Homo sapiens: one gene and its partners. The protein of the gene in region 2 purifies or fractionates together with the protein of the main gene of each other region. This does not show direct contact. Each region holds a gene or a part of one and is shown on either strand. Other genes may lie near its edges. The genes, in order: MTR, AFG2B, TIMM13 and RIPK4.

Region 1 (8,193 bases), on a different chromosome or scaffold from region 2:
TAAAAGATAAAAAATCCCTTGACTCTTATTTGCCTCATAATATTCCTGCTCTTCATGCTCCATTTCACTCAGCGCATCCTAAGGAATTGCTACAGAGCTGGCGACTCCCAAGAGTTATTAGAGGATACCTGTTTTGGTTATTAATTCCCTCAATGGCAACGGAAGTCACCTTGAAGGCAGACAGTCTCCCTGACAGAGAGGTCAGTGGCTTATAAGAAGCCCTCGTGGTTACATTAAGAATGAGGAAATTCTTCTATGATGAATTGTTAAACTCCTGCAATTGCTATGAAGATTTCCCTCACTTTGACAGTGCCTCCAGGGGCAAAACCTCTTGGCAGCTCAGCATGACATACAGAAATGAAAGCTAGTAAACAAACGCTAAAAGTGAGTACAGACCAAAAGAATGCCTAGCACAAAATACAATGCCAAAAAAACCTTAAATGGGAACGGTCTTACAAATAAGGAGCCCCTTTCCTAAGTGAGAGGGCTGCCTCCTCTGGATAGATCAGGGAAAAGATAAAAACACAGCATTTCATGTGTTAATTAAGAACTGTCTAGTATGACTTCATGGCAATAGAGGCTATGATGCCCCTTTGGCCTTCAACAGAACTCTTTGACAGTTATTAATGAAGGACCCCCTACTAGGTAGAAGATAGACCATGACTCAAAACTGAATAGTGTTTAACGCCCATGTCTCAATGTTCAAAGAAGACGACAGGGCTAAGCACTCTATGTGGTCAATAGGAAAAAAATTAAAAATCTATGGAATGTTTCTTAAGTAATGTGCTGAGAAGTAGAACTTGATTGTATCTGCCACAACCAAATGAAACATTCTGTCCTGGGTCCACATGAGAAACTGGAAATGTTTTTAAGGAACTGAGAGGAGGGTCGTGTGAGCGTTGGCACAGTGTCTGAACTCCTTTCAGCTTTGTTGAGCCTAAGGCTTCCATAAGCAATTTCAGAAATCTAAGTCTTACTACCAGTAAGGCTGATAAAACAAGGATGTGGTTAATCTCATAGTGTCCTATCCTTCTTCCAGAGCATTTTATTACTCTTCTGTGGAAGAGGCAAAGTTGGCAGTTCTATCAGAGCTAAATTCAGATTCTAACATGGAAAACATTAACAAAGTTGGCAAGAGACACAAAAGCATCCTACCACTTTCTCAACATGCTTTGTGGGAAAAATATCTTCCTTTGCCATCATTCTCTTAAACAGATTAAAATGCAAGTTCTTTTGAGGTAAAGATCTCAACTTTCCTTAAACTGAATTCTAAGAAGAACCATCTACGATAGATACTTCATGTGCCTAGGACTGCGCCCAACATATAAATGAGAAACAAGCTGGTGTTTGAATTAGCTATAATTATACTCATTTTTTACACATCAAATGTGCACAGACCTAAGCCTTGAACTGCAGAACTTTGCCACAGATGGACCAGATCCTAACATAAACAGGTATACAAACCAAAACATGGAACAGTGGGGACCATGTAACACTAACATAGCCACACAAGAAAATCCAGAACAGCTATTTTAAATAATGAGGTAGAAAAATATCAAGTAAAATGGAAATATGTTCCCAGTACACTGCTAAGAAAAAAATATTACCATAAAAGCATCTAGAGTATAGTTCTATTTTTGTAAAAAATGTATGTATATGTACCTATGCATGCATATTCATTTTGCAAAAAGAAATAAAAACTCCCATCACTTAAAGGTTATAACAAAATCTCAAGTGTTTAACTTTGGGTGGTAGGATTACAAGTGATTTTTATTTTCTTCCTTTGCTTACCAGAATTTTGTAAATTTTCTAGAACTAATATGTTACTTGGTACAAGAAAAATTAATTTTACATTTTACAATAAATTTAAAGAAACCTAAGTTCAGAATACGGAAGCACCCTAGGCATGGTCTGTTTACCCTTCCTTGCCCTAGCTACACCACCATCTCTGCAACTCTCTGTAGAAATCTTCAGTGATCCAAATATATGATTCGATATTTGCTTCTATTCCACCATGAAGGTCTACTAACTGTAGGTGAGTAATACATTCAAAGATAGGAAAAATCCATCTATTAGAACACTTGTCTCTCTACCTGGGCATAACGTAAGAGCTTCTCAGTGGCCTCAGGGTCTTTATTCCAGATGAGATCTTCACAGAGCTGCAGAAGTTCCTTATGGATATCATCATACACAGGGAGGTTTCCAGCATTCACTATCCCCATGTCCATGCCAGACTAAGGGCAATACAAATAAAAATGAGAATTTACAGTGATACCTTAAGTCAGCGATCAGCAAACTTTTCTCTGTAAAGGGCCAGAGAGAAATATTTTAGGCCATAGCCTCTGTCACAGCTACTCAACTTTGTAGTTACAGCATAAAAGCAGCCACAGACAAGATACAAATGAATAGGTGTGGCTCTATCCCAATAAAATCTTATTTACAGAAACTGGCAGCAGGCCGGACTTAGCCTGCATGCCACACTTTGAAAACCCCTGCCCCAACTAAAAACTGGTTTCCGCAGGGCTAAGAGTTCTTCTACCATACCTTGATTGCATGGTAAAGGAAAACCCCATGCATTGCTTCTCGAATGGCTTCCATTCCTCGGAAGGAGAAGGACAAGTTGGAAAGACCTCCACTTATTCTGGCTCCAGGTAATGTTTCCTGGCAAAAATTTTAAAATATGAAAAGATTCCCCTTTTTTGCCAAAAACAGCAATCACATCTCTTAAGCTTTATATAGGAGTGGAAAGAAAAAAAAACAAAAAGCATCCGAAGTTCAAAGTAATTCAGAGCTTCTTGTTACTAGACATAGACCAAAGCTTGCCGTATTACAGTATTACAAAGGCGCTGCTTCGTAAGTAGTTTTTCCTACTAGACTCCAATCTCCCTAAGGAGAACACGCGCGTACACACACACACACACACACGCAGAAAGACAAAGAGGAATTCCTTATTCACTGAAAGTACAAATTACTAGAAGGCTTCCATAGCCTAAATGAACAGACTCCCTAGTTCACTATGAACTTGACCGACTATAAAAGGACAAAAGGAAATTGAAGTTCCAACCATACCGATGACAGTATCAAGCATCATCAGGCTTGTGGAATAACAGGAACTTTCACTATTATTGGCTCAAGAATCTAGGGAGACAGTTTGTCATTATCTACTACTATGAGCCAACCACTTCTGGGTCTATGCTACAGAGAAGTTCAGGCATGCATGTCTAAGATACATATATAAGAATACTCAGAGCTGCATTGTTCATAATGTCCAAAAGCTGGAAAAAAACTAGATGTCCATCAACAATAGAACAGTTAATTGTGGTATAGTTATACCATAGAATATTATACATTAATAAAAATGAACAAACAGCTACAGCCACACAGATAAATCTTTAGTATGGAGTAAGAAAAAAACATAAAAATATTACGATTCTATTTTTATTAGGCTCAAAAGCAGGCAAAACCAAACTATATCATTCAGATATTCAGTCAATTCTTACTATTTTGTGGTAGTTATGTTCTTTAAAGTCACTGCAAACACTGAATTAGGGAATACCAGAGCATTGCTCCTAGGAGAAATACAGGGCTAGGTTCCTATGAGCCTCTGATGACATTTTTGTCAACCAATCAATACATAACCTTGTTTTGTGCATGTATGTTAAGATGCTGTATCTAATATTTACTGTTGATTCATTAAGACTGAATTCACAGCCAATGGCACTATAATTCATGTCTGAACAAAGCTTATCTAACACACATATTTCCTCCCTAAGGAACATCACAGCCTTCTTGTGCTTAGAACACTAGACAGCACTAGTATGGGGCCATTTTAAAAAGTGACCTCACCAACAAAACGCATAAAAGTGTGAAAAACATGGCATTAGACTGCAAAAAGGACATCTGTGTACAGGATGAGAGCTGAAATAAGAAGGTAGGTCACTGCCATGTTTGCCCTCTTTGGGAATAATATGGGTTGGGCCACTCAAATTTTCCACCACTCTGCATATGGGTAAGTCTGAACAACTGCAGAAGTGACGTTGAGTATTGATTTTGGGGTCACAAATAAATTTCAGTAAGTACATGAATTTGCAAATATAAAATCCATAGATGATGCAAATCAAATCTACATATATAAGCAATAAATTTATGAAGAAAAGCAACAGAGTAGCGTCATAAAACTCAGGACAATAGCTACTTTATAAAATTGAGAATGAGGTGTAACTGGAAAAGGAGAGACAGACGGGGGCGCTAGCTATGCTCTATTTTGGGACCTAAGTGAAGGCTCTTATATGCTTCATAATTAATTATTTATCAGGTTCTGTGGTTTTTTTGTTTTGCATCATTTTGTTCAAGGCAGGGCCTCACTCTGTCGCCCAGGCTAGAGCGCACTGGCGTGATCCCAGCTCAATGCAACCTCCACCCTCCTGGGTTCAAGCGAGTTCATCAGGCTCTGTTATGTTCTCCAGTCTGTTTGTTACACAAGTTAAAACTCTACTAAAGAAAAAAAATAAGGTCTCCTACATTTCAGAAAAACAATTTACTAACTAAGAATGTTAACATTTCATCAGCCAATAAATATATAAGTTAGTTCTAACCATTCATTAGACCCATGGGACAAATTTGAGCCATGACTTGGGAGAGAACATGCCTACACTTACTTTAATGACTTTTGTTGCATGGATAAAATTAATGGCATACAAGTTGTGTTCCTCCATTCCAGTCCCAATGGTTAGGATATTAGGGTCAAAAATAATGTCATTTGGATTAAAGCCCAGTTTTTTCACAAGCAGATGGTAGGCCCGGGTGCACACTCTGATTTTTGTGTCTGTTTCTGTTGCCTAGGGAAAAGAGCAAAAGATGTAGTTTGAAATAGAAAAATTATCTATTAAAATATTAATATTAAATACCTGTTATTTTATTTTAATAAAATATTAATATTAAAATATTAAGTGTTATACATTAGAGCACATTTCACTCACTGAAAACACTCAAGTGTCAATGCTTGGATTTCACAGAAATCTAAATGCCAAGCAGCTTCCGATCACTTATCAAATTATCTCAGAGGAGAGACTGGTTTAAAGATCTCTTTGTGTTTTCACAAACACAGCAGCTATACTCTTTCTGCAAAAAATCAAACCTTAAACATATACACACATATGGTATATTATGAAAAAGCTTCTAAAAATACATGCATATGATAAAAAATCAAATACTACTAAAGAAGAGATTAACATGTAAGTGCCCCTTCCTCTCTTGACCTGACAGCAGTGTCACAACCTATCACCCAGGAAACACTGCCATTGCTTTCTCAGATCTTCTTGCAAAAACATTCTAAGCATATTCAAGGATATGCATTTATTCCTCACCTTCACCCATTTTAACACTGGCCTAACATGTGTCTTAAGTCATAAATACAAATTAGTCTTTACCTTCAAAATAATGTCCCTAAAAGGCAAAACACTAACTCCGGCAAGGCTCATCCCCCAGCTGCTTCCCAAAAGCCTCAGAATCTCAGCCTCCATCTCCAATCTCATCTCCTACCATTTGCCCTCTCCTCTACTCCGCACCTCCTACATTGCTCCTTTGGTGTTTTTGAAACCCGTCAAGCTTGTTCCTCCCTCAGCAACTTTCATTTATTGCTGCCACTACCAGAACATACCATGACATGGCTTTGTGCTTCACAGAACTAAGGCTTCTGCCCAAGTGCCCCCTTTTCAGAGCCTACCTTAAATCACCCTCTCTAAACCAGCCACTTCCACCCTTCCCCACCTCCTCCATTCTTCTTCGGAGTATTTCTTTCCAGAAATTGTATTATTTTGGCAACATCTTTAGTATTTTTCGTTGTTTTATTACTTGTTAATTGGTAAACTCCTCTCCCCTAGATAGAATGCCAGTCTTGCTTTATCCCCAGTGCCCTGAGCAGTGCCTGTCAAAGTAGGTGCTCAACATTATGTATGAATGCTGCTTTTACTCAAAGTATTTCTGAACTTTGTCATGGAAACTGTCTTCAGATCAAATTTACAACCTCAACACAGGGTATTCACCAAATTACATCCTGAATTATTTCTGGTTGTATGAAAAATCAAATCTACTCTTAAAAAATGATTACTTGCTATCACTCCAGAGATAAGAAAAAATAAGTCACAATTCTGAAGGTCAATTCTCAATGAACGCGAAAAATGTTCTTGAAAAATGGCCAACCCTACTGCAATCTATATTGCAGACTTCTGTGGAGATGAGGGGGTAGGGACACGGACATAGGTCAAGTGCATCTAGTGAGGCCCTAGACAACAGAAATGAGGAGTAGGGGAATTATGAAAAGAACTCTCTCTTAGATCTAGCCTTTTGATCACTTACTACTTTGGTATTCTTTTTCAACTGTTTTCTTTGGTCTCTTTAATCGCTCTCTGCAGCTGGTGGGGTGAGACTTCACCTCTACTTGGGAGGGAAGTGCCTCCAGGACTTAGCAGACAAAATGGCCCAGGGAAAGGGAGACAGGAAGTGGTCTCTGTGGCCTCACTGCACCCAGGCTTTAGGGAAGGTGGCGAGCTTTCGTCTTCCTTAATGGAATTTTCTCAATGCTTACTTCCTCTGCCTTCAGTTAGAGTGAAAAGGTTAAGGTTGAGACTGAGATGTATGTCAGAAAAAACTGGTCAGAAACAGCCCATTTGCAGCTGCCTTTAGGCTTGAACTTTTAAAGTCTACCCTTCACCAGACAGCCCAATAGAGTTCTAGGCTCTAGGTTCATGGCTCATCTAAGCTCACTAAGAGAGAAGGCACAGGGGCGACCAATGCTACTAGTATTACTGAGTAACCTAGTCTGGTTGGTAGATGAAGAAGTCAAGGTCCTGGTCATTCCTCATCTGAGCCATGAATATTATCTGGCCAAGCAGGGCAGGTTGAAGTGAACAGTATGTTACCCACAGGAGAGTAGGGTGTAGGGCCCAGCTGTATACCAAAGACAGCCCTGCTTGTGGGACAAGCAGGTGCATCCTCACAGGACAGGAATTCATTTCTAGAACCAAAACAGAGTCATCAACTCTAACCTCCATAAGGATGAAGCCCTTGTCAAATTGTTCTCATGGCGTCTAGCACAGTATCTGTGCCACATTAACAGATACTCAACCTCTGTCACTTGATTAAACAATGACTCTCAGAGTGAACACGGCATTGGTGTACAGGCCTTTGTCAGGAGCAGGTCATATCTCATATCACGTAAGGTTCACCAAGCTTCTGTCTTACTCCTCACCAGGGCTGTGGGACAGACACACTAATAAAGCCTCAATCGTGCTGGTGGATTTCAGAGATCCAGAATAGAAGTTCAGTAAAACAACGGAATGGCAGCTTTACTCCATCAGGAAGGGCTTTCAACTCTGGTTGCACATTACAATACCCTGGAGGGATTTCTGTTTGCTTGTTTTTTATAATAGTAACACCTCACCCTGAACCAGTTAAATCAGAATCTGGAGATGGGGTCTCAGCAAGTGTTTTGTAAAAGCCCCTTAGTGATGCTAATATAAAGCCAGGTGAGAACCACCAACAGGTGAGATGTGGCACCTTCTTCAGTTGGAGTAGAAGAAAAACTCAGTGAGATTCTAAGCAGCAAGAAGGAAGGAATAAATGCCATTTATAGCTTTATCAAACAGGTTTACTCTTAAGCCATAGAGAAGCTAGACTGTGACCAGTGAGTAGAAGGCTTTACTTAAGAAGCTCATGGCTCAGATTCTGCTAAAATATCACACACTCAGGCAGTAATGCAATAAAACAATTTTTGATTTGGTCATCAAGGCAGACACTGTGAGGAAGAGAAGGACAATGTGTAGAAGACATCTAGATTCTTTAATGTAGTCTGACAAGGAGCAGAGATCGAACAGGGCTAACTTCAGAGGTGAGTTAAAGTTTTAAAATCGAACTGAAGTAGTTGAAGATGGGCGAGAGAACCCTGGAGGAAGCAGAGGCCCATCCTGGGGCTGTAATTAAAAAAAGAAGTGGCCCGGCCCAGTACAATGGCTCACATCTGTAATCCCAGCACTTTGGGAGGCTGAGGCAGGTGGATCACCTGAGGTCAGGAGTTCGAGAACAGCCTGGCCAACATGGTGAAAACCCATCTCTACTAAAAATACAAAAATTAGCCAGTTGTGGTGGCAAAGGCCTGTAGTCCCAGCTACTTGGGAGGCTGAGTCAGGAGAATTG
Region 2 (9,003 bases):
GGACTTTCCTGAGTGATAGGAGCAGTCTTTTGTTCTACCAAGGCAATTCTTGCCCGGCTCCTAGATGAGGGCTGGTCACCGGAAAGCCCAACCATGATCATAAACTTGGAGCTTTCAGCCCCTACCTCCATTCTCCAGAGAGGGACGGAGGCTGGAAATTGAGTTAATAATTGATCATGCCTACGTGATGAAGGCCCCATAAAAATCCCTTAACTATGGGGTTCAGAGAGCTTCCAGGTTGGCAAACACACATCCATGTGCCTGGAATGTGGTACATACCAACTCCATGGGGACAGAAGCTCCTGTACTCAGGACCCTTCCAGATCTCACCCTTTGTATCCCCTGGCTGTTCATCTGTATCCTTATTACATCCTTTATTAATAAGCCAGTAAATGTAAGTAATGTGTTTTCCTGAGTTCCATGAGCCATCCTAGTAAATTAATAGAACCTAAGAAGGGGGTCATGGGAAGCCCAATTTACAGACCGTCCCTGGTCAGAAGCACAAGTCACAATCTGGAACTTGTGATTGGCATCTGAAGGTGGGGGGCAGTCTTGAGGGACTGGGCCCTGAACCTGTGGAGTCTGATGCTATCTCCAGGTAGATAGTCTCAGCATTGAATTGAATTAGAGGACACCCAGGTGGTATCTGTGGGAGAATTTGCTTGATATGTGGGGAACTCCCCAACCAACACCTGGTGTCAGAAGTGCTGTGTTGAGTGGCTGAGTGGTGTATGAGAGTAGGAAAAACAATTTGTTTTGTTTTTCCTATCCTTAATACCTGTTTAAAGTAGCCCTTTTCCGTTTATTTCTTTCAAAGCAATTTTCATCACCTTTAATTATCAGATTTATTCACTTGTTTACTTCTTCAATGTTTGACTTCCCAGTAGACTATAAGCTTCATGAAGGCAAGGATTACAGTGTTTTTATTGTTGTTGTTTGCCACCAAATACTCAGCCTCTGGTATAGTAACTAGCAAGAAGTAGATGTTCAATAAATATTTGTTTTAATAAATATATAATTATTATGTTTGTTGAAAAGTGTGAACCAACATCATAGGGAAAAATTACCTTAACATTAACTTCTAAAAAATGATGAATCAAGCAATTTCCTGAAAATGTGCAAGAACAGACTTTCAGAATGATGTTCTATGAACTGTAGTCTGCAGGTCATTTGAAATCCAGCAAATATTTTCATCCTCCTTCTTCTGATTCTATAACTTATTCTATATCTAGAATTACTCTAAAGACTAATTCTAACCTGGATACAAGATAAAAAGTAAAGATGGAAGATTCTAAAGAACAATTTTAACAATGTCCCATTTAGGGGGATTTTCATTACATACTTTATGAACACAGGTTCGGCATATTAGCTATCCGTGGAAATAAGTCACTTACTACATCTACATGAGCATGTTGAGATGAAAGTGTTTGCAAATCATGCTTTTTCAAGGGTGGCTAAACAAATCTCTATTCATCTATTACAACTCATAGTCATTGCTAATGTTCAAATATATTAGGGTTGAACATAACACAAAAATGGAAATGCTGGAAAGATTAACATTATTTAATCTACAGATGACTCATGCTACTGGTTTAACCATTTTCTTTAGATTTTTTTCATATACAGGAATATATTTTTATATACATATATAATATGCTGAAGGGACAAAAATATTGCATGATCATTATCCTAAAGAAACAGATTCCAATTATTTCTTTTGAATTATAGACTTACAGTTAATTAAGAATTTTTATAGTTAATTAAAAATTAGACAGATTGTAACCTTGAATGTAACAAAGGACATAAAGAGAAACCATTTGTCACATGTACCTTTTCGGGAAAATCTCACAAAAGATTTTGTTTGGCAAAGCTATTTGAAACAATTTAAAGCTAGAAATGTTTCTAGGCTATAGCAAGATGAATTCCATCGGTTTGGATTTTGACCTACCACTAAATTTTGGATTTAGGAACAGTCTCATTTTTATACTTAACACAAAAATTAAATTTTAACTTAGAAACTGAGTTTTACACAGCTTGAGGCTTGTGAAAAATTATGTGAAAATAAGTCAGTTACTGCTAGGGTCTCAGTGTTTGTGTCCTCCACAAAATTCATTTGTTGAAATTTTAACCCTTGAGATGATGGTAGTAGGAGTCAGGGCCTTTTGGGAGGTGATTAGGTCACGAGAGTGGAGCCCTCATGAATGGGATTAGTGTGCTTATAAAAGAAACATGAGGGAGCTAGCTAGTCCCTTCCACCATGTGCAGGTACAATGAGCTGTCTCTAGACAGGGGGCCCTTACCAGTCATGGAATCTGCCAGTGCCTTGTCTTTGACTTCCCAGCCTCCAGAACTGTAAAAAATAAATTGCTGTCATTTATAAGCTACCTCGTTCGTAGTATTTTGTTACAGCAGCCTGAACAGACTAAGCCAGATAATATATAGAGACAACAGATGGCTTCATACACCTAGGTGTGAATCCTGGGAAAATTGAGTGGAAACCACAGTTGAGAACACCAACGTCCTAACAATCCTGTAGCCTTCAGGCTTAGTTGGTTCTGGACTCCCTCTAGTGGTTCAATTCTAGTGCTTTAATTGATGTTCTTCAATTCATAGAATTAACAAATTTCTGGTCAGATTAAAAACAACTAAGCAAAAGAGCCACACAACTCCCATTAGAATGGTTTACCACAAGGAGGCCAGGTGCAGTGGCTCATGCCTGTAATCTCAGCACTTTGGGAGGCTGAGGCAGGTGGATCACTTGAGGCCTGGAGTTCGAGACCAGCCTGGCCAACAGGGTAAAACCCTATCTCTACTAAAAATCCAAAAGTTAGCCAGGCGTGGTGGTAGGCACCTGTAATCCCAGCTACTTGGGAGCCTGAGGCAGGAGAATTGCTTGAACTTGGGAAACAGATGTTGCAGTGAGCTGAGATCCTGCCATTGCACTCAAGACTGGGTGACAGAGCAAGACTGTCTAAAAAATAAATAAAATTTTAAAAATAAAAAGAATGGTTTATCACAAGGAGATTATGTCATTGAATGGCATGATAAATATGGATGTTCAGATGGCTGAAATCATAGTGTTGCAAATGGTTAGACCTAAAGGGACAGAATGGATTTTACTGGATGATTGGGAAAGACATTTATAGTTTTGCTCAGAGTGAGTGGATAAGAGCTGAAGGCCCAGTAACAGAATTCCTTGTTGCTTTTGTTTGCAACCTATGGTAAAGACTGGATCTTTTAGAGAAAGAGTGAAGTGAAATAATATTTCCTGTGCATATGGATTCTATAAGGTCAGAGGGTTCTTGTTTGACCTTGTATAAAATCAACCTCTTAGACCAACCAAAAGCAACATGTAGTTTCCTTCTCATCATATTCCTAATAGCATAGTTTGTGCCTCTGTTTTAAACCAATTCAGAAAATTTTGAGGCCGATTTAACTTTATTGGCTCCCTGTTTTGGCTTTGGTTATTCCACTCCATTAAACCTTTACTTCTTGGCCATTTCTGCACTGTAAATATAAGTAAATCTACTAACTCTTTTACATGAGATCCCTTTACATATTTAAGACAGTTATCCTGTCCTCAGTAAGTCTTCTTTCCCTCTCCCAGATCCTTAAAGCTTCTTGGAGCTGAATAGAAGGAACTCGATGAGGTACAGGCTTCTGATAAAATAACTTGATAGGCATGTAATTCACACCTTTAGGGGTCGGTAAAAACGATGGCTTTTTTTTTATTTCAAAAAATGCAAAGCTGTTATTTAAAAGTCCCCAAACCAAAAAGAACTGAAGCCAATGGGATTAAGAGGAAAAAAGAAAACAGGAAGTAATGGGTGACTTATCCATTTCAAGACCTCCTCCTGCTATTTTCTGATTCCTAAATTGTTCCAGAATCGATTTAAGCAGACAAGTACAGCTGAGACCAGGTAAGTTACTGTCAAGTCAAGAAGTCTGTCATGTCTGCCATGAAGTTTGGACAGAATGAGATCAGGAACTGGCATGGGTCTTAAGATCCCAGATCTGACAGTACTTCCCATTGATAAGATATTACTACACAGTCTGTAATTGATTATTTGCATAGATAGAAAAAAAAAACTTCCCAGCAACTTAAGCACTCTAAAATATCAGTTTTGTCAACTCACAAATTTGGGTTGCAGTGAAAGTGGGGAAAATAGAGGTAGGAAGATGTAAGTCAAATAAAAACAAGGTATATCTTCTTGTCTTTGAGTATCTGTAGTTCTTTTTTAACGGCAATTAAGAGGGATAGAAAATGTATTCCAGCTGATAAAAAGGAATTCCCTGTGCGAAAGGGAAAGGCAGAAAGCAGCTGGAAAAAAAAAATAGCAGGCAGTTGTCTTAATAACGTAGATAGGTATCGCCTCTAATACAGGACTTAGTACTGTTGTGCCCCAATTAGACAGTAAGCATTGATCGCATGAACTTTAGTGATTAACTTGTTGCCAAAGAATATTCAAAAGAATATCAGAAATCAGAACAAATGTACTGTTGGTGTGCTACAAATCCATCAGGTAGCCTAGTTTTCCTTCTTTCCTCTCTACAAGGGATTTTAAGCGCTACCGTGTGCTTCCCTCCCACTATGCTGGTACTTTCCCATAGGAAGGGTTGTGCCTGGACCTCCCAGATTGGAACCCCGATTACCGAAGGTCCCAAGGCTGTATTCTCAGTTACGCCAAGTCACCTGAGACATTTGCACCAGAGCACCCAAAATTCTGTGCCCATGCGGATAGTTAGAGTTTCTTCACAAAATAGCAAAGTCTCTAGGTTGCTATTCCAACGGCGGTAGTACTGATGCTCCAGTTCGAAGGCCAGGAAAACAGAATGTAAAGCCGGTGACTTCCAAGATATATGTAACCACCAAAGTACATGCTTAATGACCTAGTGAAGTGAGCTTAAGCCGCCTCCCAGACACCTGTAACGAAGACCATCTCGGGAAAGCTCTGGGTTAGGCAACTCGATTTCACGAAAGCGGACACCAACGCTCTACCCAGAGGCCCGAGCGTCGTCTAACGTTTCCATTGGCCCTTTCGGCCTTCACTCAGCTGCTAGCAACGCAGTCTGCCCTAGCGCATGCGCGCAATCTGCTTCCGGCCTGCGAGCTCGGTGTTCCGCTTTTTGTGGGCCGGGTGGGTTTCCTAATCTGGTTTCGTCTGCCTGGTTCATCTGTGTGCGATGGCTCCGGACTCGGATCCCTTCCCTGAAGGGCCGCTCTTAAAGCTGCTACCCTTAGACGCTAGAGACCGGGGCACCCAGCGCTGCCGCCTGGGCCCGGCCGCCCTCCACGCCCTGGGCGCGCGCTTGGGCTCGGCAGTGAAGATCTCGCTACCCGACGGCGGCTCCTGCCTCTGCACTGCCTGGCCTCGGCGGGACGGAGCGGACGGCTTTGTGCAGCTGGACCCGCTGTGCGCGAGCCCCGGGGCGGCGGTCGGGGCGTCGAGATCCCGGAGGAGTCTCAGCCTGAATCGCCTCCTCCTAGTGCCCTGTCCGCCCCTGCGGCGCGTCGCCGTGTGGCCGGTGTTGCGAGAGCGGGCAGGCGCGCCCGGTGCCCGGAATACAGCCGCGGTGCTGGAGGCGGCACAGGAGCTGCTGAGAAACCGACCGATCTCCCTGGGCCACGTGGTGGTCGCTCCGCCAGGCGCTCCTGGCCTGGTGGCTGCCTTGCACATCGTCGGCGGGACGCCCAGTCCCGATCCCGCTGGGCTGGTCACCCCTCGTACCCGCGTCAGCCTTGGCGGGGAGCCTCCGTCGGAAGCCCAGCCGCAGCCCGAGGTGCCCCTGGGAGGTCTTTCGGAGGCGGCCGACTCGCTGCGGGAGCTCCTCCGCCTCCCGCTCCGCTACCCGCGCGCCCTGACCGCGCTGGGCTTAGCGGTGCCTCGCGGGGTGCTCCTGGCGGGGCCCCCCGGAGTGGGCAAGACCCAGCTGGTGCGGGCCGTGGCGCGCGAGGCGGGCGCGGAGCTGCTGGCAGTCAGCGCCCCGGCGCTGCAGGGTTCCCGGCCTGGGGAGACCGAGGAGAACGTGCGGCGGGTCTTCCAGCGCGCCCGGGAACTGGCCAGCCGCGGACCCAGCCTCCTCTTCCTGGACGAGATGGACGCCTTGTGTCCCCAGCGGGGCAGTCGAGCACCCGAGAGCCGCGTAGTGGCCCAGGTGTTGACGCTGCTGGACGGCGCCAGTGGGGACCGCGAGGTCGTGGTTGTGGGAGCCACTAACCGGCCGGACGCTCTAGACCCAGCGCTGCGTAGGCCCGGGAGATTTGACCGAGAGGTGAATGGGCTTGGCGGGTTTGCCCACTGTCGGTGGAACCTCGGCCGCTTCTGGCGCCATTTGGCTGCCCCGGAGGCGTTTGCCTCTTAGGTTTGAGCATCGGTGAGGTTGGAGTTGGGGCTCTTTGCAATGCAGAGAACACGTTCTCTGCCGATATATGATCTGTGAGTCAGGACCTGTATTTCCCCAGAGTCAAATTGTCAGGACCTGTGAGTCAGGATCTGAGAGTCAGGACCTGTTTCCCCAGAGTCTAATTGTTTTGGGAAGCGAGGTGTCCATTACAGATTAATTTTGTTGTGCAGGTCCTATAATCAGTAATGTTAATTCTTAAGAGAATTTTGGTCACCTACAAGCGTGTTAAACTCATTTTTTGGAATGAGAATTTAAAGAAGGATAGCCTCAAGAAGTAAGTGTGTTGAAATAAAAAGGGAGAAGGTGGGGAAGAACTAAATGGAAGCAGGCATTAACTCTTCTGGATTTATTCATTCCTTGTCATAACACCAGCATCCTATTCCACAATTGAGGAGGTACCCACAACTGCTCCCTGAGTTGTCAGGGAGGTTGAATATTCAGAGCTGTCCTATTTTAAGCTTTGGTCCTAAATTGACTTGAATTCTAAAGAACAGTTTGAAATTTAGTGACTGATATTTCTATTTTGTGATAGGATTCAAAAGAGAAATGATAATTACACACTTTTAGCTCAGTTAGTTCAGGACTTGAGTGGATTTCTTCCTTGCACTATCTAGTACCTGTGTCCTTAAGGGCAGGGACCTAGCTATCTATACCTGGCTTCTAGAACTTTGTGTGTTCTTAAAAATAACAAAAACTTGTTAAATGACATAGAATTTTCATTGTGCAACTTTCTAGCCAGTGTTACTCCTCTGGAATATTAGGATTTTCGTATATTCAGAATCTAAAGTATACGTAAAGTGCACGGTACTAGTTCCAAAGTGGTTCACTAAATTGTCGTACATGTTTGTCAGGATAAAAAACATATTATTATTTTGGCCGGGCGCGGTGGCTCACGCCTGCAATCTCAATACTTTGGGAGGCTGAGGTGGGTGGATCACCTGAGGTCAGGAGTTCGAGACCAGCCTGGCCAAGATGGTGAAACCCCGTCTCTGCTAAAAATACAAAAAATAAGCCGGGCATGGTGGCACATGCCTGTAGTTCTAGCTACTCTGGAGGCTGAGGCACCAGAATCACTTGAACCAGGAGGTGGAGGTTGCAGTGAGCTGAGATGGTGCCCGCTGCACTCCAGACTGGGCAGCAGAGTGAAACTGTGTCTCAAAAAAAAAAAAAAAAGAAAAAAAAAATATATATATGTATACACACACATATATAAAATTTTTTTGGAAGTAATTCTTTTTTAATTGATCTATTTTTATTGATACATAATTGTGCATGTTTTGGGGTACATGTGATATTTTGGTACATGCATACAATTTGTAATTATCAAATCAGGGTGCTTAGGATATCCATCACCTCAAACATTTATCATTTCTTATCTGAGTGTTGGGAATATTTCAGATTCTCTCTAGTAGCTATTTTGAAATATACGAGAAATTATTGTTAACTATAGTCACCCTACTACACTATCAAACATTACACATATTCCTTCTACCTAACTGTATGTTTGTACCCATGAGCCAACCTGTCTTCATCCCCTCACCCCCAACCCTTCCCAGTGTCTGGTTGCTATCATTCTGCTGTCTACCTCCATCCATGAGATCAACTTTAAAAATAATATATTTTAAACTATATACTTCTTCTTCTTTTTTTTGTTTTGCTTTGCATATAGGTGGTCATTGGGACTCCCACACTTAAACAAAGAAAGGAAATTCTGCAAGTGATTACCTCGAAGATGCCCATCTCCAGTCATGTTGATTTGGGCCTTCTTGCAGAAATGACAGTTGGCTATGTTGGTGCCGACCTGACAGCACTCTGTAGGGAGGCTGCCATGCATGCCCTCCTTCATAGTGAGAAGGTAAGAAGTGTTAATTTATGAACATCTATGTTAATCTATTATTGTAACAGATTAATTTGGGGGTTAAAAAAAAGCGGTGAGTACATTTTCCTTAGAACATTTGATAGCTTCCACAGCTGTTGCTTATACATTTTACATCTCAACTCTATATAAATAGTATATGATTGAGGGTGGGGATAAAGGGCTGAGTCCTCTGGGTCTACTGAGTGAATTTGTTCCCTACTCTTATAGTAACTCCCTAGTGCTGAAGCCCAGAGCAGCCAAGAAATAGTGTGGCCCCAGAAGAATCAAAGAGTTTTTTTAATTTGAATTTTTTTATTTTGAGGCAATTTCAGACTTAGAAGTTACAAAAATAGTACAAAGAGTTTCCATATACCCTTCTCCTAGATTCTCCAAATGTAACATTTGCCACATTTGCTTTATCATTCTCTCTTCATGTGTATTTCCTTATATATATACATATATATAATGAAATATTTGAGCATATACTACATCCATGATGCCCCTTTACCCGCGAAAACGTAAGTGTATATTTCTGAAAAACAAGGACCTTAACCACAGTATGATGATCAAGCTGAGAAAATTAACGCAGACATAATACTTGTACTTAACCTAAATAGGCCTTAATCTAGAATCATACTTCAGGCTTTCTTCTATGAAAACATAACTTTTTAAGAGTCAGTTATTCTGTGGAATATTCGTCAGTTTGGGTTTGACTAATGTTTCTTCATGATTCAATTCAG
Region 3 (8,037 bases), on a different chromosome or scaffold from region 2:
CACCCCCTAGCCTGACCACACGGGGCTGGGGCTGCGAAGGCCGAGTCCTACCCCGCGGTCCCCACCTAACCCGGAAGCTGCGGCCCCCCCCCTCCAGCTCCAGGCTAAGCCCACGGGAACATTGGGGTCACTTCTTTCCCCAGCCCTCGCCCCTGGGACTTGGCTCCAGCCCCCCAAAGCCCACCCAGTAGAAAGCTGCCCTCCCCAGGGCCCAAGCCCTGGCAGTCGAGGGGTCCGGTTTTCCAGAGGGGACACCCAGCTCTGGGCTCTGCAGGGCTGGAGGTCAGAAGGGGAGGGCAGGCGGGGGGCGGGACTCGCACGGCCACTAGACCCCTTTTCAGAGCGCTCATATTAGGTGGTGACGGCTGCAGTTCCCGGTGCCGCCTCGGTGCCTGATGGGGGAGACTGAGCCCATTCCCAGACCGACAGCCAGAGACCAAGAGGCCAATAACCCTGCCCAGGGTGCCAGCCGGCCGCTGGGGGACACCACAGGGGCGGGGGCCGGGGGCGTGGGGGCTCGGGCCGACGCCTGTCCTCGCGCGCCCCGCAGCTACGGGGACCCCAAGCAGTGGGCGGCCTTCCTAGGCACGCCGTTCCTGAGCGGCGCGGAGGGGCAGCTGGAGCGCGTGGCGCGCATCTACAAGCACCCGTTCTACAATCTCTACACGCTCGACTACGACGTGGCGCTGCTGGAGCTGGCGGGGCCGGTGCGTCGCAGCCGCCTGGTGCGTCCCATCTGCCTGCCCGAGCCCGCGCCGCGACCCCCGGACGGCACGCGCTGCGTCATCACCGGCTGGGGCTCGGTGCGCGAAGGAGGTAGGCGCGCCCGGGGCCGCGGTGGTGCGGGGCTCGGGGGGCGGCCGGACGCGGTCCCCACCCGCCCCGTCTCGCTCGCCCGCCCGCAGGCTCCATGGCGCGGCAGCTGCAGAAGGCGGCCGTGCGCCTCCTCAGCGAGCAGACCTGCCGCCGCTTCTACCCAGTGCAGATCAGCAGCCGCATGCTGTGTGCCGGCTTCCCGCAGGGTGGCGTGGACAGCTGCTCGGTGAGCCCCGCCCCGGCCCAGGGGACCAGGTCCCGCCCAGCCGCCGGGGAGGGCGGGTTCCCGCTGCCACGAAGCCCACCATCCGGGAGCCACCCTCCGGTGCAGGCTTCTCCAGCGGATCAAGCAGGGAGCCTTTTTGGCTCTGGAGGAATTTCCACTCCACAGCCGTTTATTGGGCAACCCACCGCATCCCATCCCCGGGCCTCGGCGGCAGAGCAGGCAGAGGCTGCAGTGGGAGGCACCGTTCCACTCCGGGACCACGTGGCGGGTGTCCATAAATGTCTGCCACCTTTGCATTGAGCCCATTTTCCAGATAGTGAAAATGCGGCTCCCAGGGGAAGTCACTAGGGTCACTCCTAGAGGGGCCAATGACCCAAGGGCTGCTGTAGGGGAGGTACCGGCCTCTGAACCCCCTTTCTTCTCTCCCCAACAGGGTGACGCTGGGGGACCCCTGGCCTGCAGGGAGCCCTCTGGACGGTGGGTGCTAACTGGGGTCACTAGCTGGGGCTATGGCTGTGGCCGGCCCCACTTCCCAGGTGTCTATACCCGGGTGGCAGCTGTGAGAGGCTGGATAGGACAGCACATCCAGGAGTGACCACCACGTGACTGCCCAGGCCGAGACTCTACGTGAAAGCAACAGGAGCAGCAGGCCACCCAACACCCCACCCCACCGTACCCTACCCAAGGACGGGTGTGGGGGGGCTGTGGGTCATGGGGATGCATTTTGGTACCACCCTTTGTTCCAATAAACACAGCCCCTCCACCCTAGCTCACTGGCTCAGCACCTCAGTGTCACAGCGAGGACCACCTGCCTGGTGCTCCACCAGGACCCGGGGTGGAACGAAGCAGGGTCAAAGCAAGCCCTGACAAGGGGAAGGCTGTCCCCCTTAGCCTTTGGGGCAGGGGTGGCAGCAGCAACACATTCCTCGTGACTCAGCAGCCCGGTGGCACTAAGGGGAAAGATGGACTTCTCCCAACCCAGGGGAGGCTGAGACCCTCCGAGCTGGGGTTCCAGGGACACGCGTCACCTCTTCCCAGAGACCCCTCAGGAGGGAAATAAAGAGGTTTCTCTCCGTCCTCCACCAATTTATTTGCCCATCCGCAGGAGGTGACAGCTCCTGTGGTGTCTGACCACCCCCAACTCCGAAGTCCAGACAAGCTGTCCGCCCAGAATATGAGGCTGACTTGGGCACACTAGGGGAATACCCCAAAGGCCTGAAGGAGGTGCCACTGGGCTGCCAGCACTTCAGGAAGGCACAGGGCCCCACACCCCCGAGATCCAAGCTGCACTGGCTGGCAGGGGGCAGGGCGGGGGGTGGCGAGGACACAGTCCCGTGTGTCCCAGCACCGGTGCCACCCTCCTAAGCCCCGGGCAGGCAGTACGTACATGCGGACCCCGCCTCTCAAAGCACGTTTATGGAAATGAACAGGGTGGGGTGGCCCGCGCTCGCCGGTCACATGTTGGCTCGTTCCCGCTGCAGCCGCGAGTTGTAGGCGCGAGACACGGTGTTCCAGGCGTCCATGTAGCGGTCCATGCACATGGCGATGCACTTCTGCGGGAGCGGAGGGGCGCACGGCTCAGCTCGGGACTTCGCGGCCCCGGGGACCGCCCTGACCCCGGCTCCAGGACGCCCGGGCTGCAGACTACGCACGTGCAGTGACCACTCCGTCGCACCTCCCCGTTAGTCTGCGCACGCGCAGACACCTCCCCCCTCGAATCTAGGCCCTCGCGACCCTTGCCCCGAACCTCCGCGGGTCTCACCTGCTCGGAGTTGTCCAGGGAGCCCCCAGGTTTCCCTATACACTTCCGGAAACACTTGTCCGTCATCCTCTGTGGAGACACGCGAGGCTTTAGCCGCGACGTCGGCCCCCAGGGGTGGCCCTGTCGCCCCCAGCGCCCGTCCCCGGCCAGCCCCGCACCTGCAGCAGCTCCTGCGCGTTGGCCACGGCGATCTGCACTTTCACCTGCTCCATTATGAGCCCTGGGTCCAGCTTCCCGCTGCCGGAGCCCCCGAAATCGGAGCCGAAGCCGCCCTCCATGGCTCCGCAAAGTCAACCGGACCGAGGCCGCGTGCGCCGACTCGTAACTAACTGCGCCGGAAGCGGGCCGCCCGGGGCACCACGGGAAACGGAGTCCGCGCGGACGGGGACGGAGGACTACAACTCCCACACGACCGCGCGCGCCCGGGCCATTCAAGGTCGCGCGGGGGGCCCTCCGCTCATGCGGAGGCCTGGACCTGCCGTTACCTACACGAGCTACCCGTGGTTGCGACTCCGCGGGAAGAGGGAGGCCCTGACTTGGCCGGGGAGTAGGGGGGCTACTACGTGCGGCCGAGGCCGATCACTTTGTACTCACGCTCTGCCTCCAGCTCGTCCCGAAGGGCCTGCCGCGCATGCGCACGAGGCACCCGGCGCGTCTATACAGCGTGTTGCCGCCGGGGCGGAGCCCGGTCGCATCACGTGACGAAGAGTCAGCTTGTGCAACAGCGTCGGAGGCTCACTAGAAAAAAAAGGGCAGGGTCCCATGCATCGCCTGGGTCCTGTTTACACTAGCTACACTAGCCAGTGACCTTTTTCCTTGGGGGTGGAGGGATCTTTCTTAGACATCCGCTTCATTAGGGCAGAGGCCCCGGCTCGAGCTTCCCCTCAGGAATAAACTCAGAGGCAGAACCTAAAATCAAAATGTTTATTGGAGTGTTGTACAAAAAAGTTTCCAGTCATAAAATGTATATTACAAATCATTGGAAAAAAAAAAGAACACATTAGGCATGCATCTTCTTAAAAACCGAATCTCTGAAATGAAAGTCCATGCCAGCCCCAGCTGCAGCCCAGCTCCGTTTTTGCAGGTTGTGCTGTGACGCTCGCTGGACGCAGGGCTTGGAAGAGGCTGCAGGCGGCGACGCCCCAGGACTGAGGAGTCCCTCAGATCTTTAACAAAGAACTGCCGCGTGCAGGCTTCAGACCAACCCCAGCCAAAGCCGCTGGCATGAGGACAGGTGCATGATCGGATTCTGGGTCAGCCCGCAGGCCTCCCGGCTCCTGGGCTCAGCGGGGCAGGCTTCAGCGTTAACCTGGCGCTGTGCACCCCAGAACCCGCGTTGGTCCAGCAGGCGTGGGCCTCCCCCCAGGGCTGGGTGGCGTCTGATGCTTCGCAGGGAGGGCGCTAGGCTTCGAGTCACACGGCACGGGCTTACACAGAGGGATGGTTTCGCATCGTTCTAAGCGGCACACAGCTAAGCGTATTTGGGGACAAATGCAAATTGTTTCCCAGGCCATAAATAACTTTTAAAAATTTGATTTTCTTAGTGTTTCCAAAGACTCAATTCTCAATGAACCTCCAATTACCCACAGGCTGCCCAGTCCACGCTTCTCCCCACCCCCTTCAGCTAAGGGCACCCGCAGTCCTAGGACCACCCCCAGCTCCACCCAAGGCAAATGTAGGGTGGGGGGTTCTGTGGGCCTGGGGCGTGCTGTTTTCAGGACAGGACTGGGCAGCGTCTGGACATGAGGACCTGCGGGTTTTGGGGGGGACTTTGTCCCTGAGCCCAGCCTGCAAGGCTGTCGGCAAATCACAGACCAACTCCAGGATACAGCTTTGCTCCTCCAGAGCCAAAATACATAGGATGTGGCTGAGACCACTGCAGACTCCCCATAGGACAAGATCACCAAGACCCACCCCCAGAACCCTCGCTAGCACGAAGCCCAGCCAGTCGGGTCCGGGTGATTCCTGCTATGAAGGTGGGAAAGAGGACACAGTCTGTCGCCAGCATTCCCACTTCCAGCGGCTGGCAGAGGGTATCCCCGGGGCAGGCAAAGCTCCCTACCAGCCGCCTGACTGGGAGCACAGCGGCGTAGCCTCCAGGAGGAAATGCTTTGGTAAGATGCGCCCCCCTCTATCTACATGGGACCGGGACTTCTGAGAGCAAGGACAGCGAGCAGGGGCTACGTGGAGCAGCGGGTGTTTCTGCTTTGTCGGCCGCTGGCTCCTTCCCGGCCTGGGGCTGGGGCCCCCCATTCCTTCCTGCCACAGGCAGGTCCCCAGGGAGGCGGGATGCAGTCACAGGGGAGCGGTGCCGCCCCCGCCCTGCAGTGAACGCCATGGCCCGGAGACGGCGCGTGCCCATGGCTCAGTTTTGGTGTCTTTAAGACTTGAGCTGCACTTTCTGAAGGAGGCTCTGCCGTCGGAGGGTGCCCCAGCCCCACGCCACCCCGGGGAGGAGGGTCAGCCTGTCCTCAAGGCCCTGGCGTGAGCTCCTGACCTGTGTACTGACCAATGTAAAAAAATAAATATCCATTAAAAAAATAACTTCTGTGTATCTATGAGGGAGGGTGTAAACGGTGAGCTATTGCCGAAGGGGGGTGCCAGGCATTGGGAAGCTGGACTGAGGGGCTTGGGTGCGTCGTGATAGGAGTCAGGTGGCCTTGGCCTGTCTGAGAAACATGGTTTCAGCGAGAAAATCACAGATAAAAGCACAGTATGGATAGACGCATGTGTATATATAGGCACAGGGCAGACGGAGCTGGAACACGGGAGGGGCTCCACAGCGCTCTCCTCCAGAGGGTCAACATGGTGGCGTTCCCTGCAGACAGCTGTTCTGAAACTCACAGCTTCTGCCTCCAAGGCAACCAGATGTGTCCCCTCCACATCTCCCCTCCCTGCTTATTGTTGTGACAGGTCTTACGACGGGACTGTCCTCATTCTTCCTTCCCCAGGTCTTCCCCTCCCCTGCCCTGTTGGCCTTGCACAGTCAGGAACTGAACTGCGGGAAAACTCCCCCAAATAAAGTCAACGGTCCGAGAAACCCGGCCGGTGCGCTGCCAGAACGGGAATCTGGAAGCCCAGGCAGCGGAGTGAAAACCCGCCCTGGGGGCCACGCCATCCCCATGCTGGCCCACACCCGCTGCGTGGCTGCCTGAGGAGTTCCCGCTGTCCGAAGCTGGGCAGCCAGAATGCAGGCTTGGCCCCGGGCCCCACCAGGTCGACGCCTGGATTCTGAATTTGGTTTTGTAGAAAGCCTTAAAAAAACCCACCACCACTGAATTCCTACGCAGTTTCCGCGCTCCGTCCGCAGCAGGGCCGTCTCCTGTCCCCTCGCTAGCCTCGCCGGCCCTCCTCCCTCCAAGCCCAAGCATCTTCTAAACCTCCGGGTCCTGGCCCTGGGCTTCCAATTTGACCAAATGGTGAGATGAGGAGTGGGGTGGGATTGAAAAGTCTCCGGGGCAGCGGCGAAGTGGCAGCGAAGTGAGGCTGGAGGAGACCCGCCAGGAGGGAGGGCTGGGGGAGACCCACCCACACGTTCTGGCAGTTCGCTTAGAAATTCTCTAGAAATGTATCAAGAACTAAAGAAAGCCAATGATATAAAAATAGTTTTCAGTGGCTCTGGGTAAAGAAAGGTGTGTGGATGAGGAGTGTGGGTTCACATCACGTAGCAGCCTCTTGAGGTGGTCCTCGGGTCCCCCTGCAGGAAGGAAGGAAGGAAGGTCGGCCATGATCAGGGCCAGCCTGGAGGCAGCCGGCAGGTAGATGGCTGCCCCCACCTCCCCACCAGGGAGGGGCTGAGCAACAACAGTGTCTATTTCTAGAGCCTTCCATTCCACTTCCATGTCCCCATGAGCCCGCCTGTGAGCTACACATTCTGTTCTGGGTTCCAAAACAGTCACAGGAACTTGCGACGCACGCGTTTAATGCAGCTGTGGTTTCTGCACTCATCTTCTCCCCAGAAGCCAGTATTGAAGGGACCTGTGTCTTCGACTGAGGAAGCCGGTTGACCAGAGAGCATTTGGGGAGCTGTTCAACACCCACCTCTCAGGGGACCCCCTGGCCAGCTACCCTGAGGTCTGTGATGTCGCAAATTCACACGATGGGCACGACCCAGGAGGCAAGAACAGGTCTCTGCCGTGCTGGTAACAGCCAAGGCTGGCTTCACCCTGAGCCACGGCAGCCAGATGGAGCTCCCGTCGGGGATGCGGCCAGCACGCATGTGTATGTGTGTGCACGAGCTCACTCTGCCCCAGAGGCTGCCCCCCAGCCGCAAGTGGGCACAGGGGTCCTACCTGTTGGTGGAAAAGATCCTCCTCGCCAAACTCGGCTTCCTCCTCCTCTTCCTCCCCATTCTCATTCTCACGCATCACCGAGGACTTCTTCACAGTCCTCATGGCCACTTCCTGTGCGGGACAGGACACGGCGGCATGTCCCGGGATCGGGCCCAGAGCTGCTGTGGCGGCCCCGAGGGTGCCCAGACCCTGCCCAGGACTCCAGCCGAGCACCCCCCAAGCCACACACACCCACCTCGCCATCCGCGTTAACCAGGACGGTGCGGAAGCTCTCGCCCGTGCCCCAGCTGCTCTGGCCCTTCCACACCAGCGTCGAGGGGGGGCTGTGGGCCACCCCCGCACCAGCTGCCCACACCTGAGGACCCAATAACAATGGCCCCATCAGGGTCACCTCTGGTTCCAGGGACGTGGGCCAGCCAGTGGCCCCTACCACAAAGCCCCCTTCAATGCCCTGGGCGTTCAGTCCTTCCAGCCCGACGCAGGCTTATCCAGGGTGATGGTCCCCAGGATACACAAGAAGAGACCAGGGTTCACAGAGGCCAAGGGCTCTTGGCAAGCAGGGGCTGAACTGGGATCTGACACCCACCAGGCTCCATGGCCCATGCGCCTGACTGTTAACACTTCACGGGGACGCCTGCCAGCCCCAGCAGCCTGGACTCAGACCCAGGGCACACCACTCAGGCTCCAGGGAGGCCCAGTGGGGTGACACCAGCACATGGAGGTTCTATGACTGCGGCAGCCGCTCTGAGACGGTGCCTGGTGCCACCATCATCCCCACCCACCCCCGCCAAGTCCTGTGCCTCCAGTCCCCTGACCCCACCTCACACCCCATCCGTGGCCACCCTCGCCCTCCTGCCCCACCACCTACCGTGACCATCTGGCCGGCGCGCAGGATGTACTTGGGCGTGAACTTGTAGGCGATCTCCTCCCCCTCCAAGACC
Region 4 (5,373 bases), on a different chromosome or scaffold from region 2:
GTTTCTTGACCCAGCAAGAATTCTTCTTTGTGTTCTCTCTGTCTTAAGTAATTAATTTTGTGTGTTGGGCATTTGGCTCCGTCTTATGTCACTTAGCATGTGTGGGGAACAGGCCACATCACCAGTCTGTGCAGCAGTCTTGCCTGTGCCAGTGCCATGGGTGGAGGCTGACCTCAGGTCTACAGATTGGAAACCCCCTCCAGTGCAGTGAGCCTGGCGAGTAGCCGAGCCCCACTCCCTGGCGGGCCTCCTGTCTCGGGCGTGGCAGTCCCGCACCCTCTGCTCAGACGCTGCTGGGTACACACCCACGCCTTCGCATATGTGGGCTCCCCGTTCACGGTAGTCCAGGCCTAGTAATGTGTTGGTTATCCTTGGAGGTTTTACCACCAGGCCACCTTTGCAAACCACCTGATAGGGAGGAGCACTTCTCTTTTAGCTAATCTCATCTTTTTATGTTAATTTTGATGGCTTTTGTTTCTGGAAGGTGCTTTTTTTCCTATCCCTGCCCCAGGGTGCTGGACCTGGTGCTTGTTCTGGCCTCCTTTCTGCCGGCTGCAGGGGTAAGATGTGGTCCTGCCCTGTTCCTGAAGGGGCTGCAGCTCTGATGGAAAATACAGGGATTTACACTCAGGGCTACAGCCACGGGGGCTGAGGGCCAAGGCTGCAATCTCGGGGGAAGGGGAAGTTGGCTTTTCCTGGTGGATTGGAAACATCCTCTTGGAGGCAAAGACTTTTCCTGGATCTTACAGACTTCCCGGGATTTTTAGATTAGAATATTGGGGGCAAAGGAGGCTGTCTTGTTTTAAGGCAATGCTACATAGACACAGTGGGGAAGACCTGGTTCGACGGCAGATAAGCAGTGGGTGATGGGCTTGAGGAGGAGAGTCAGGGCAAAGTCTAAGACTGAGCAGAAAGAAATACCACCATCTCCCATGGATAAGTACGTTCTAGAACATTCTCTTTGGGTCTAATACTCTGAAATGACATCTTGTCTTCATGCTCGAGAGAGAATTACTTCACTGGCTCCACTTGGAGTGCCAGTGTTCAGACACCAAGCCTGACTGGGAGGGTTCCGTTTTCTTAACACCTTCCCACCGCCGACTTCCAAGTCCCCACGCGTTTCACATGAGGGCGGAGGAGAGTCTCGTTGCAGGGTTTCAGCATTCCAGGCACTACGGTAGGATTTTTGTGGTAAATACAACTTTTCATCCTGAGTGCTGGACTAACGTCCTCCTGAAACGAGAAGCTCGGTCCCTTCAGGATTATCATAGAAAACTTCCGACTTAACCTCCCCAGGTCAGGAGGTGCCACTTCGAGGTGGGGCAAGAGCTGGAGCAGCCCCTTCCAGCTCTAGTCACCATCTCTGCAGGCTGCTAGGCCTGGGGCGTCCGTGGGTGGCAGGTGCCAAGGCTTCCAGGCGAATGGGAGCTCTGGCCTGGTCTTTTTAGTCTGTGCCCTTTTTCCTTCTTTCTTTAATGAAGGGATGTTTGCAGTCACTGCCATCTCTAAGCACCAAGGGGGCTCACCACCCCGCAGGACAGGGAGAGCGGGTTTTATTTTGCAAACCGACTAACGAGCACCTGGGAGACATTCGCCAGCCTGCCCCGGGGCTCCCGCTAGGACTGACCTTAATCACGAGGCACAGACAACGCTCAAACACAGTCGGGTGACCAGCGAGCAGCCTGGAGGCCATGGCACTCCTCCACCTGAGCGCCACAGCCAGGCTCCCAGAGACGCCACGTCCCTGGATGTGCAGCCACGCTCTGACCTTTGCCTCTCCTCTCCCTGCAGATCTGGGCACCACAGACGTCCAGAAGAAGAAGCTTGTGGATGCCATCGTGTCCGGGGACACCAGCAAACTGATGAAGATCCTGCAGCCGCAGGACGTGGACCTGGCACTGGACAGCGGTGCCAGCCTGCTGCACCTGGCGGTGGAGGCCGGGCAAGAGGAGTGCGCCAAGTGGCTGCTGCTCAACAATGCCAACCCCAACCTGAGCAACCGTAGGGGCTCCACCCCGTTGCACATGGCCGTGGAGAGGAGGGTGCGGGGTGTCGTGGAGCTCCTGCTGGCGCGGAAGATCAGTGTCAACGCCAAGGATGAGGACCAGTGGACAGCCCTCCACTTTGCAGCCCAGAACGGGGACGAGTCTAGCACACGGCTGCTGTTGGAGAAGAACGCCTCGGTCAACGAGGTGGACTTTGAGGGCCGGACGCCCATGCACGTGGCCTGCCAGCACGGGCAGGAGAATATCGTGCGCATCCTGCTGCGCCGAGGCGTGGACGTGAGCCTGCAGGGCAAGGATGCCTGGCTGCCACTGCACTACGCTGCCTGGCAGGGCCACCTGCCCATCGTCAAGCTGCTGGCCAAGCAGCCGGGGGTGAGTGTGAACGCCCAGACGCTGGATGGGAGGACGCCATTGCACCTGGCCGCACAGCGCGGGCACTACCGCGTGGCCCGCATCCTCATCGACCTGTGCTCCGACGTCAACGTCTGCAGCCTGCTGGCACAGACACCCCTGCACGTGGCCGCGGAGACGGGGCACACGAGCACTGCCAGGCTGCTCCTGCATCGGGGCGCTGGCAAGGAGGCCATGACCTCAGACGGCTACACCGCTCTGCACCTGGCTGCCCGCAACGGACACCTGGCCACTGTCAAGCTGCTTGTCGAGGAGAAGGCCGATGTGCTGGCCCGGGGACCCCTGAACCAGACGGCGCTGCACCTGGCTGCCGCCCACGGGCACTCGGAGGTGGTGGAGGAGTTGGTCAGCGCCGATGTCATTGACCTGTTCGACGAGCAGGGGCTCAGCGCGCTGCACCTGGCCGCCCAGGGCCGGCACGCACAGACGGTGGAGACTCTGCTCAGGCATGGGGCCCACATCAACCTGCAGAGCCTCAAGTTCCAGGGCGGCCATGGCCCCGCCGCCACGCTCCTGCGGCGAAGCAAGACCTAGCTGGCTGCCTGCGGAGACCGGGGGTCCACGTGGGGCTCTTGTCCTGTCCTGTGTTCCTCGTGGGGATGGAACGATCCTGCGTGGGGCCCTGTTGTGGCTTACCTAAATGTTAACCAAGCAGAGGTGACATGGTGCCATCAGGAGGCGGCTGCTGCTGACCGGAGTGTCCCCTCCAGGTGAAGCTGGCTCAGGTGCACATGCCCGCTCCATCATCGATCTAGGCACCTGCTGTCTGAAGGGACCGTGGGTCAGAATCATTTCGTTGTGCTCCTAATGGGTCGCTGAGGCTGGTCTCTCAGTGATGAAGCCCCAGGCGTGGAAGCATCCACTCTCTCCTGAGGCGAGCCACCTTGGGTTGCTGGAGCTCACCAGTCTTGAGGGAGGTGCAGGGGAAACTGTGTTTTTTATCTTCATACATGACGGTGGGCAGAGAGGCCTGTCTTAAAGTTTCCATGGAATTGTTTTATAAAATATCTTAAGAGATGAATACCTTATCAGCTGTTGCTTGAAACCTGTTAAAAATGTTCATAACATTGGATAGTCTAGTCTCTAAATGATGACTAAGTAGTGGGGTTGGCTTTGAAAACAATGTTTTATGCAACAAGGAACGAATGGTAGCAGCCAGCTTTGCGGGGCGTATGTGTGGCCAGCTCTTAACCATTCCAGTCTATTACTTGGGTGAGTCCTTGTGGACAACCACACACACGTGCCCACATGGTACTAGCTGCCGTTCGTTTCTCGTTGCCTAAGATGTTTTGGCAACTCTAGAGCCACAGGCCTAAGTCATTAAAAAATTCTCCCTTTGTAACCTCAGTGCTGGGGACTGAGGCGAGCCCCCTCAGGTCGCTGGAGTGCACCAGTCTTGGGGAAGAGGTGCAGGAGAAGCTGTGTTTTTTATCTCCACACGCAGTATGAAGATAAAATTACATAGTATTACCTAGACATAGACAGTATTACCTAGGTAGATGCACTGCTCACCTGCGCCCTTCCCAGCTCTCATTTTTGTTAGGTGATTTGGGATAGGGATAGTGTTTTGGGGTATGGGGGGAGTGTTTCTGACCTGCTTTGCAGACGTGCCTCCGCACCTCAGCAGTTTGGGGTGTGGCCCCAGGGCGGTTCTTGGATGTAAAAGATGTGGCCATCTAGCCTCGTAACTTCACTGTCACCTGTGTCCCATAGGGTGCCTTCTGAATACTGTTATTAGAATAAGTTTGTTGCAGAACGTGACCCTGCGTGCAAACATGTACCGTGGCCTGGTATATGATAGAGATTGATATTAATGTACCATGTATGTTAATGTGAATCTGTGGGCAGGATACTTTTCCATGGCAGGAAATATCCAAGCTGTTGAAACTGGCTATGTTTTAATATGCCTCATTGTGCCTTTACTGTTGTGTGGACTGCGTGAGGGACAAGAAGTTCCATTTGATGTCAATAAAGCAAAGTACTTGCCTACTTTTTTGAAGCTGGTTGAGACTGCTTTTTCTTATCAACGAGCTCGAGTAATCTGGTTTCTGAAAACCAAAGGCTTGAGGCAGTGACGGAAGCTTGCAGATGGCCTTCTGGAAGGGCCCCTGTGTCCTCAATTAACCCAGGCCGCGGGACCCCGAGAAAGCAGAGGGTGGAGCCGGGCGTCGTCCTCTGCCTGGGTCCCTCCGCACACGGGTGATCAGGTGGGGGAGAGAAGTGTGTCTTGATGGAAGCTCCCAACACTGAAGTTTTTATTGAAATGTTATAGTTCTTACGTTCTGTATTTTGAAATAATTTCAGATTACAGAAAAGTGACAGGAGTAGTACATAGAACTCTGGTAACCCTTCAGCTAGATTCCCTGTTTGCTTATATTTGATTGTATTTGCCTTTCTCATCCACCTACCTACCTGTTCGAGAGTAGGTTGCAGACAGTGTGCCCTGTTACTCCTAAATACTTGCCTGTACATTTCCTAAAAACAAGAGTTTCTCCTGCATCACCCACAATTTACCCATCACATTCAGGAAATTAACATTGGTAGGATATTACCATCAAATCTGCAAATTCTCTTCAAATTTTGCTGATTGTCTCAAAACTGTCCTTTATAGAAGAAGAAAGTTGAAAAACACGCAAGCAGCACCTCTTTTTTTTTTCACTCTCTGGCCTGGGACCCCATGGTGTTCAATAGCCATGTGGCTTCCGTTTTTATCAATCGTCAGTTCCTCAGTCTTCTCTTTTCTGACTTTGAATTAACTTATGACATGGAGCTCCTTCATGGGTTCATTCAGACCTTTTGGGAAGTATGGCCAGTTATTTGGTGGAATGTCCTCAGTTTAGGTTTATCTAATTTTCCTCAAGATATGGTTTAGGTTACGCATTTTTGGCAGAAATACCACAGACATGATACTGTGTACCAAGGAGGGCTTTTTCCCCTCCCACTTTTGTTTATTTAC

What was found.
Region 1: the proteins of AFG2B (region 2) and MTR purify together in Homo sapiens (affinity purification with mass spectrometry; 3 studies listed by BioGRID and IntAct, with this or other methods). This does not show direct contact.
Region 3: the proteins of AFG2B (region 2) and TIMM13 purify together in Homo sapiens (co-immunoprecipitation; 3 studies listed by BioGRID and IntAct, with this or other methods). This does not show direct contact.
Region 4: the proteins of AFG2B (region 2) and RIPK4 purify together in Homo sapiens (affinity purification with mass spectrometry; 3 studies listed by BioGRID). This does not show direct contact.

What each region holds. Positions count from the first base shown.
Region 1 is NC_000001.11:236,846,989-236,855,181, reverse strand, and holds part of MTR (methionine synthase), read right to left. Parts: intron 4,839-8,193; coding exon 4,659-4,838; intron 2,662-4,658; coding exon 2,545-2,661; intron 2,235-2,544; coding exon 2,094-2,234; intron 1-2,093. UniProt on the Homo sapiens protein: Catalyzes the transfer of a methyl group from methylcob(III)alamin (MeCbl) to homocysteine, yielding enzyme-bound cob(I)alamin and methionine in the cytosol. MeCbl is an active form of cobalamin (vitamin B12) used as a cofactor for methionine biosynthesis.
Region 2 is NC_000015.10:45,397,246-45,406,248, forward strand, and holds the start of AFG2B (ATPase family gene 2 protein homolog B), read left to right. Parts: upstream 1-5,090; 5' UTR 5,091-5,184; coding exon 5,185-6,273; intron 6,274-8,074; coding exon 8,075-8,260; exon of another isoform or gene 8,261-8,267; intron 8,268-9,003. UniProt on the Homo sapiens protein: ATP-dependent chaperone part of the 55LCC heterohexameric ATPase complex which is chromatin-associated and promotes replisome proteostasis to maintain replication fork progression and genome stability.
Region 3 is NC_000019.10:2,424,452-2,432,488, forward strand, and holds TIMM13 (mitochondrial import inner membrane translocase subunit Tim13), read right to left. Parts: upstream 3,136-8,037; 5' UTR 3,083-3,135; coding exon 2,963-3,082; intron 2,874-2,962; coding exon 2,805-2,873; intron 2,596-2,804; coding exon 2,497-2,595; 3' UTR 1,638-2,496; coding exon of another isoform or gene 1,476-1,637; 3' UTR 1,174-1,475; downstream 1-1,173. Other genes in the region: TMPRSS9 (transmembrane protease serine 9), read left to right, coding at 551-816, 906-1,042, 1,476-1,637; LMNB2 (lamin-B2), read right to left, coding at 6,460-6,501, 7,097-7,207, 7,332-7,451, 7,965-8,037. UniProt on the Homo sapiens protein: Mitochondrial intermembrane chaperone that participates in the import and insertion of some multi-pass transmembrane proteins into the mitochondrial inner membrane.
Region 4 is NC_000021.9:41,738,416-41,743,788, reverse strand, and holds the end of RIPK4 (receptor-interacting serine/threonine-protein kinase 4), read left to right. Parts: intron 1-1,791; coding exon 1,792-2,951; 3' UTR 2,952-4,416; downstream 4,417-5,373.